Homo sapiens: one gene and its partner. Changing the gene in region 1 together with any one later gene gives a genetic interaction. Each region holds a gene or a part of one and is shown in the gene's direction. Other genes may lie near its edges. The genes, in order: RRAS and ASPM.

Region 1 (3,919 bases):
AGGCCCGAGCCCCGCGGCCCGGACTGCCGCCGCCATCTTACCCCGCCGCTCGGGCTGCGGCTCCGGCCCCGGCGCGGGGCGGGGCGGGCTGGGGCGGGGTTCGTGAGCAAAGGAGGAGAGAGGCGGAGCTAAAGCGCCGCCGAGCTTGCCGGGATTTCAAGTACCGAGCACGGCGACGTGAAGGCCGGCGGGAAGGCAACCGCACTCGGTTTCCCAGAAGCCAATGGGACACATGGGGCGGGGTCCGCGCGATGCACGCCGGGAGGCGTAGTCCGCGCACCGCCTCTGTCGCGCGGGGACAGCTAATGGGGTGAGAGGTGAAGTGGGCGGGGCCGCGGTAGCCCGCGATGACGCCCCACAGTGCCCTGCGCGCGCGCGGAAAGGGTGGCGGAACAGGAGGTGACGTAAGAGGCGCCAGGCAGAACAGACGCAAGGGAATTGTAGTCCGGCGGAGTGAGCACGACTTGCTGGATGTTGTGCTGCCCACATTCTGGGGCTCTCAGAATCCAGATCCTCTAGGCCCCCCTAAATTTAGAACCAGACGGGATGCAGTGGCGCACACCGTAGTCCCACTCGGGAGACTGAGGCGGAAGGATGGCTTGAGCCTAGAAGTTAGAAGCCAGCCTAGGCAATATAGGGAGACCCCGCCTCTAAAAAAATAAAAATAGGCCAGGCGCGGTGGCTCACGTCTGTAATCCCAGCACTTTGGGAGGCCGAAGCAGGCGGATCATCTGATATCAGGAGTTCAAGACCAGCCTGACCAACATGGTGAAACCCAGTCTCTACTAAAAATACAAAAATTAGCCTGGCGTGGTGGCTAACGCCTGTAATCCCAGCTACTCGGGAGGCTGAGGTAGGAGAATCGCTTGAACCCGGGAAGCGGAGGTTGCAGTGGGCCAAGATCGCGCCATTGCACTCCAGCATGGGCTACAAGACGGAAACTCCGTCTCAAAAATAAACAAATAAAAATAAACTTAGAACCTAGAAGCCCGACCCCATAGCCGCCTCGTTCAGTACAGAGAAGTCTGAATTCCGAATCCTCTCACTCAGAGCAGTGTCCAGACTCCTATTTCCCTCCTCCCTCCGACTCAGGAGTCTGATTCTTCCTTCCTCGGATCCAAGAGTCGGTCTCCCAGACTAGTCCTGGTCTCAAGCTCTCACATACGAATTCGGGTCCCCCCAAGCCAGTGCCCTCGCTCGGATCCAGAATCCTGGGTCCCCAGCCTCTCCAATTCCTGGACCTAAGAGTCCAGGCCCCCGGCTCCCTCCTTTACCGAACCTAGTACGAAGGAACCTGTCTACCTTCCTCCCTGACACCCTCCTCCCCAGGACCCAGGAGTCCACATCTCCAGCCCCATTTTCTCCTAAGGACCCAGGAGTCTGGGCCCTCTGCTTCCTTCTCCTTCAAGACCCAGAAATCCTGGCCCCAGGCTCTTCATGACCCAGGCATCCCTACTTGGGCGAGCTGGCTCATGGATTAGGAATGCAGTGATCTCACGGCCCCTCCCTGCCCCGTTACCCTGCTGTCCCCCTCTAGGGCCCCACTCTCCTCCCAGTCTGTCTTCCGCTTGGCTGGGACAGCGGGAACCGGAAGCCTGGGTCCCTTAGCGGGCGGAGACTCTAGCTTCTAACCCAGACGCCGGGGTCGAAAGCTTGGCTAGGATCCCAGGAGGGAGGTGGAGCTACTCCTCAAAACCTGCTGCTTCCTCGGAGCGCCCTATATACGGCCGCGCGCGCGAGTCGACGAGCTCCGCCTACCATACTAAGGCCTCGGAGACGATGCCCCAAGCAGCAGTGTCACAGGGGTCCTTATTTGCATAGCCCCTCCCCTGAGGAACTTTCCGCCCCGTCTGCTGAAAGAATAAATTCTTATTAGCATAGCCACGCCCACAGACCGCCCTCCCGCTGAGAGCGCGTGGCGCCGCTCAGGGCAAAGCACAGGTCTCTCATTAGCATAGCCCCGCCTCATTCGGAATTCCCCTTCGCAGCGAACGCCGTTCCCTTTCCCTTATTAACATAGCTCCTCCCTTTCTTTGGCCCGTCCCCCTCCTTAAGTGTCCGGAGACGCGAGCCCTCCTTGCCAGAGCTCATGATTATGCAGTAGCCTCATTAGCGTAGCCCGCCCCCCCGGGTCCCGCCCGGCTCCCCCGCAGGCGGTAGCGAAGGCAGCAGCAGCGGTGGCGACATGAGCAGCGGGGCGGCGTCCGGGACAGGGCGGGGGCGGCCCCGGGGCGGGGGACCTGGGCCCGGGGACCCCCCGCCCAGCGAGACACACAAGCTGGTGGTCGTGGGCGGCGGCGGCGTGGGCAAGAGCGCGCTGACCATCCAGTTCATCCAGGTAGTGGGCCCTCACCCGGGAGGGTGTCCCCCGGGACCCAGAACTGAGCCCTTGGGGGGATCCCCGAGACCCCTTTTCCCCCTTGACCCATCACTGAGACCCTCCTATAAGGCCCTCTAATCTTAAAAGATCCCCACAGATTGTAACCTAAACTCTTGGAGAGCCTCCATCCCCTGCACGGGGGACCCTTCCTTCTGCACTCGCATCCCGAGACCCACTATTCCCTCTCCCAGTGCCTAAGACCCCGCTTACCTGCTGACCTGGCTTTGAGCACCTCCTGGGAGCATGCTAAATACAAAATACTCACCCCATTCGGACCCTAAGCACTCCCAGGACCCCCACCACGCCCTTGGTGCCACCTTCCACCACCCTGAGCCCTATCTCCCCCAAATCCCAGTCCCCAACTTCCCCTCTAAGCCATTGAGAGCCTTCCTGGGAGAATGCCAGTGCCCAGCACCTTTGAGATTCCACCACGTTCGATTCTTTTTTTTCTTTTTTTTTTTTTTTGAGACAGAGTCTCACTCACTCTGTCACCCAGGCTGGAGTGCGGTGGAGTGCAGTGGTGCGATGTTGGCTCACTGCAACCTCTGCCTCCTGGATTCAAGCAATTCTCCTGCCTCAGCCTCCCAAGTAGCTGAGACTACAGGCGAGTGCCACCATGCCTGGCTAATTTTTGTATTTTTTAGTAGAGACGGGGTTTCACCATATTGGACTGGTCTCGAACTCCTGACCTCGTGATCGGCCTGCCTTGGACTCCCAAAGTGCTGGGATTACAGGCATGAGCCACCGTGCCCGGCCCCACGTTTGATTCTTAGCCCCTTCCATGACTGCCCCCAGAATCTAGAAATTCTACCCAGACCCTGGCCCTGAGACTCTTCTGGGACTACCCAGTCCTAAGAGAGTCCTGCTCTCCGACCCGAGATTTAAAAAGACATCCTGCCCCTTGGCCATTCCAGAAATCTCCAAGACCCCAAGTCCTGACAATCCCCCATTCCCGGAGGCCCAAACCTCCACTCTCCCACCCCACCCCCAAGGAAAACCAGCCCCTCCTCCATCCCATGCTTTCTCCGCTGCAACTCCCTGAGCCCCTCTCAGAAACCCTGAATAGCTCTCAAATCATCTCCATGGAAGAAGCCCCCAGATTCTTGGCACCCCCAGAAAGATCTATTCCTTGGGAGTTTCTCTGACCCCATAAATGAACTCAATGTTTCTAAGACTGTATATACTATAACCTCCCAAAACCCCTGAGCCACCTCCGGGCTGGCTCCCAGTTCTCAGCCCTGAGCTTCTCACGCTGTGCTCTGAGGTCACGCCCCTAACTACCCCCAGAGCCACAATCCCTCCCAGGGCTTGATCCTTACAGCCTCCCTCCAGGACAAGCCCCTCACCAAGCACCCCTCTAACCGACAGATGCAGCCTTCAGACCCCTAGCCTCCACATCACCCCCTTTCCTGAAATTCCACCCCAGCCCAGGAAACCTCCTCCCCATTCCTGAGGGAGGTCCTCCCAGCTTCAAAGAAATCCTAGAAAAGTGTCTTGGCCTGACATGCTACCGCAGAGGCCCCGGGGCCCCAGGACACC
Region 2 (3,919 bases), on another chromosome or scaffold:
GTTTTAACCATTCTGTGATTTACTCTAAGAAATTGTTTAATAATAAATAAAACTTATTTTGATAACAGGCTTGAAGTAATATTGCTTATTTAATATTCAATAGCTACAAACTTAATTGGTATATTTTCCTTATTTTTGCAGAGGAGTCTTTGGGATACCATTAAAAAGAAGAAAATTTCAGCCTCTACAAGTCACAACAGAAGGGTTTCAAATATTCAGAATGTTAATAAAACATTTAGTGTTTCCCAAAAAGTTGACAGAGTTAGGAGCCCACTACAAGCTTGTGAAAACTTGGCTATGAATGAAGGCGGTCCCCCAACAGAAAACAATTCTTTAATACTTGAAGAAAATAAAATACCCATATCACCTATTAGCCCTGCTTTCAATGAATGCCATGGTGCAACTTGCTTGCCACTCTCTGTACGTCGATCTACTACCTACTCATCTCTTCATGCATCAGAAAATAGGGAACTATTAAATGTACACAGTGCCAACGTTTCAAAAGTTTCTTTTAATGAGAAAGCTGTAACTGAAACTTCCTTTAATTCCGTAAATGTTAATGGCCAAAGAGGAGAGAATAGTAAACTTAGTCTTACCCCCAACTGTTCTTCAACTTTGAACATTACACAAAGCCAAATACATTTTCTAAGTCCAGATTCTTTTGTAAATAATAGTCATGGAGCTAATAATGAACTAGAATTAGTAACATGTCTTTCATCAGATATGTTTATGAAAGATAATTCACAGCCTGTGCATTTGGAATCAACAATTGCACATGAAATTTATCAGAAAATTTTAAGTCCAGATTCTTTCATAAAAGATAATTATGGACTAAATCAGGATCTAGAATCAGAGTCAGTTAATCCTATTTTATCCCCTAATCAATTTTTAAAAGATAACATGGCATATATGTGTACATCTCAGCAAACATGTAAAGTACCATTATCAAATGAAAATTCTCAAGTCCCACAGTCTCCTGAAGATTGGAGAAAAAGTGAAGTTTCGCCACGTATTCCTGAATGTCAGGGTTCAAAATCTCCCAAAGCTATTTTTGAAGAACTAGTAGAAATGAAGTCAAATTACTACAGTTTTATAAAACAAAATAATCCTAAATTTTCTGCAGTTCAGGATATTTCTAGTCATAGCCACAATAAACAACCTAAGAGACGTCCAATACTTTCTGCCACTGTTACTAAAAGGAAGGCCACCTGTACCAGAGAAAACCAAACTGAGATTAATAAACCAAAAGCAAAAAGATGTCTCAACAGTGCAGTGGGTGAACATGAAAAAGTAATAAATAATCAAAAGGAAAAAGAAGATTTTCATTCTTATCTTCCAATTATAGATCCAATATTAAGTAAATCTAAGAGTTATAAAAACGAGGTAACACCCTCTTCGACAACAGCTTCAGTTGCTCGGAAAAGAAAGAGCGATGGAAGCATGGAAGATGCAAATGTGAGAGTTGCAATTACAGAACATACAGAAGTGCGAGAAATCAAAAGAATCCATTTTTCTCCCTCAGAGCCTAAAACATCAGCTGTTAAGAAAACAAAAAATGTGACAACACCCATCTCAAAACGTATTAGCAACAGAGAGAAATTAAACCTGAAGAAGAAAACTGGTGAGTCTTGTTTATAAAATCTACTGAAGTATACCTGTAAAGGGGATACTTCCTTTTGGTTTAGTAAATCTGCTATTGATAAGCTTGTATTATAGTTTTTACTTATTTGCTGGGTACATTTCCTTAGCAAATGTGAATACAGCTTATGTGACATCTTGTATCTGTCTGATTTTTCTTTGCTTTTGCTGTTTCTTGTAGATATGTTCTGATCAGATAACAAATTCTTTGATAGTAAGGAACATACCTATTTTAATCTCCTACAAGATGTACAATAAAAGATGAATTGAATGAATGGATAAGTGAATAAATGAACAAATAAACCACTGAAAGGTCGACACTCACACCTACTGTTTGTTTGAGGCAGCCAGCTGGTTGAGCCTCTAGTCTAGAATCAGAATTGTACATATTGGGTATCTGATTTATGAGCCTATGTGAGAGGCAAGTAAGTCACCAAGAGTGGCTCTTTCTACCTCTTGACAAATCTAAGGGAACAGAGAAGGCAATTTTTCTAGATATATTTATTTGACTGATAAGGTACCTACTATGTGATGTGCATTTTTCTAGGCACTGTGTACACAGGGAGGAAAGGGATAATTCCTGTCCTCAAGTTGCGTTCAGTCCTGTGATTATGCTATGCTTAGGAAATTAAGGAAGCACAGAAGCAGAGGGTTTGTGTGTAAATTGCAAGGAAGTATGAGATGGTTCCAAGAAAGACTTCCTAAAGAAGAAAATGGTTGCAGGGAGAGGGACTAATTTCTGTAAGGTTTAAGAATGAGGAATTTCTCCTTAGAAATTTACTTTTTAAATGTTCAATTCATAGAACCTTACAATCTAATAAGTATTATGTTGCAATTTAGTCATGTTCCTTATTTTCACAATTGATATAGGTTTGAGATTACTTTAAAACAAGGGTAAGCAAACTGTTCCTCTACTGGTCCAGATAGTAAACATTTTAGGCTTTGCAGGCCATATAGATTTGCACTGCAATTACTCAACTCTGCTGCACTTGTGGGAAAACAGCCATAGACAATGTGCAAATCAAGGAGTATGGCTGTGTTTCAGTAAAATTTTATTCATAAACACCGAAATTTGAATTTTATGTAAGTTTTGTGTTTTATGAAATATTATTATTTTCATTTTTTTTTTAACTCTTTACAAATGTAAAAGCTATATTTAGCTCTTGGAACATACAAAAACAGTAGGGAGGGTTTTGCATGGGGAATGGATGTAGTTTGCTGACCCCTGCTCTTATTGTCTCTTTGCTTATATTTAGTAGCAGTATATTTTGTTGTGAAACCTGTTTTTGAAAGAGTGAACTGCTATTCCAATAGGTTATTTGCTACTGCAATTTGTATTGCATTTTCTTTGATAGCCACCTGGCATTATATCAACCATCTTGGTTACATATTTGGGAATCAGCCTGTTATTCTCTATCACTTTTCTAATAAGTTGGTATTAAGGGTTGTTTCTTCCACTATTAAAATAACTCTCCTCTGATTTGTCTCCATTGACTCTGTTTTAATTTGTCTCACCATATCCACCTTGGGTCATTGTAATAACTGCTTTGTAATTTTCTGTTTCTAATCTTGACCCTGTTCATTCCATTGTCCATACTGTTTTCTTAAATATAAATGAGGGTTTTTACTTCCTTGATTAAAATTCTTCACTAGCATAGAAGGTGCTTCAAAGTGATTAATAGTGGAGGTTCTGTAACTATACTGCCTTTGTTCAAATCTTTGCTACTTACTAGCTTATGTGACCTTAGACCATGTGGCTTAATTGCTCAAAGCCTCAGTATCCTAATTATATACATTGTGGTAATAATAGTACACTTCTCATAAATTTGTTCTCATAACTGTGTGAGAAAAAGATTATGATAGTGCCTGGCACAAAGTATTTAAGTATTAGCTGCCACTATTATTTTGAATATTATTGAACTCCTCCCTACCTCTTCTAGCCTCTTGTATGTCATTTCCTACGTGTATTCTTTGCTTCATCCTTATTGCAGTTCTGGCAACAGGCCACATTCCTCATGCCTAATTTTAATTTCATAAGTTAACTCAAGTAGATTCCCATCTGGGAAGGCTCTTCTACCATTTTTAAACTTCTTTTTTTACCAGACTGAGAACTACTTCAGGGCTGAGACCATATTTTTCAATTCTGCATATTCTCAGCACCTCGTAGAGAGTCTGGAATATACAGACACAATAAGTTTTGGTTGAATCTAGACTTTAGCCTCTGTAAACACAAAATAAATTGTGGTTTATGGTCTGTGACTTCTGGATGTTGGTTTGATAA

Evidence for each region.
Region 2: changes in RRAS (region 1) and ASPM together harm fitness more than expected from each alone (negative genetic interaction), as found in Homo sapiens cells (one study listed by BioGRID).

Annotation. Positions count from the first base shown.
Region 1 is NC_000019.10:49,638,365-49,642,283, reverse strand, and holds the start of RRAS (ras-related protein R-Ras), read left to right. Parts: upstream 1-2,140; 5' UTR 2,141-2,185; coding exon 2,186-2,338; intron 2,339-3,919. Other genes in the region: SCAF1 (splicing factor, arginine/serine-rich 19), read right to left, coding at 1,759-1,761. UniProt on the Homo sapiens protein: GTP-binding protein with GTPase activity, likely involved in the regulation of MAPK signaling pathway and thereby controlling multiple cellular processes. Regulates the organization of the actin cytoskeleton.
Region 2 is NC_000001.11:197,140,033-197,143,951, reverse strand, and holds part of ASPM (abnormal spindle-like microcephaly-associated protein), read left to right. Parts: intron 1-141; coding exon 142-1,621; intron 1,622-3,919. UniProt on the Homo sapiens protein: Involved in mitotic spindle regulation and coordination of mitotic processes.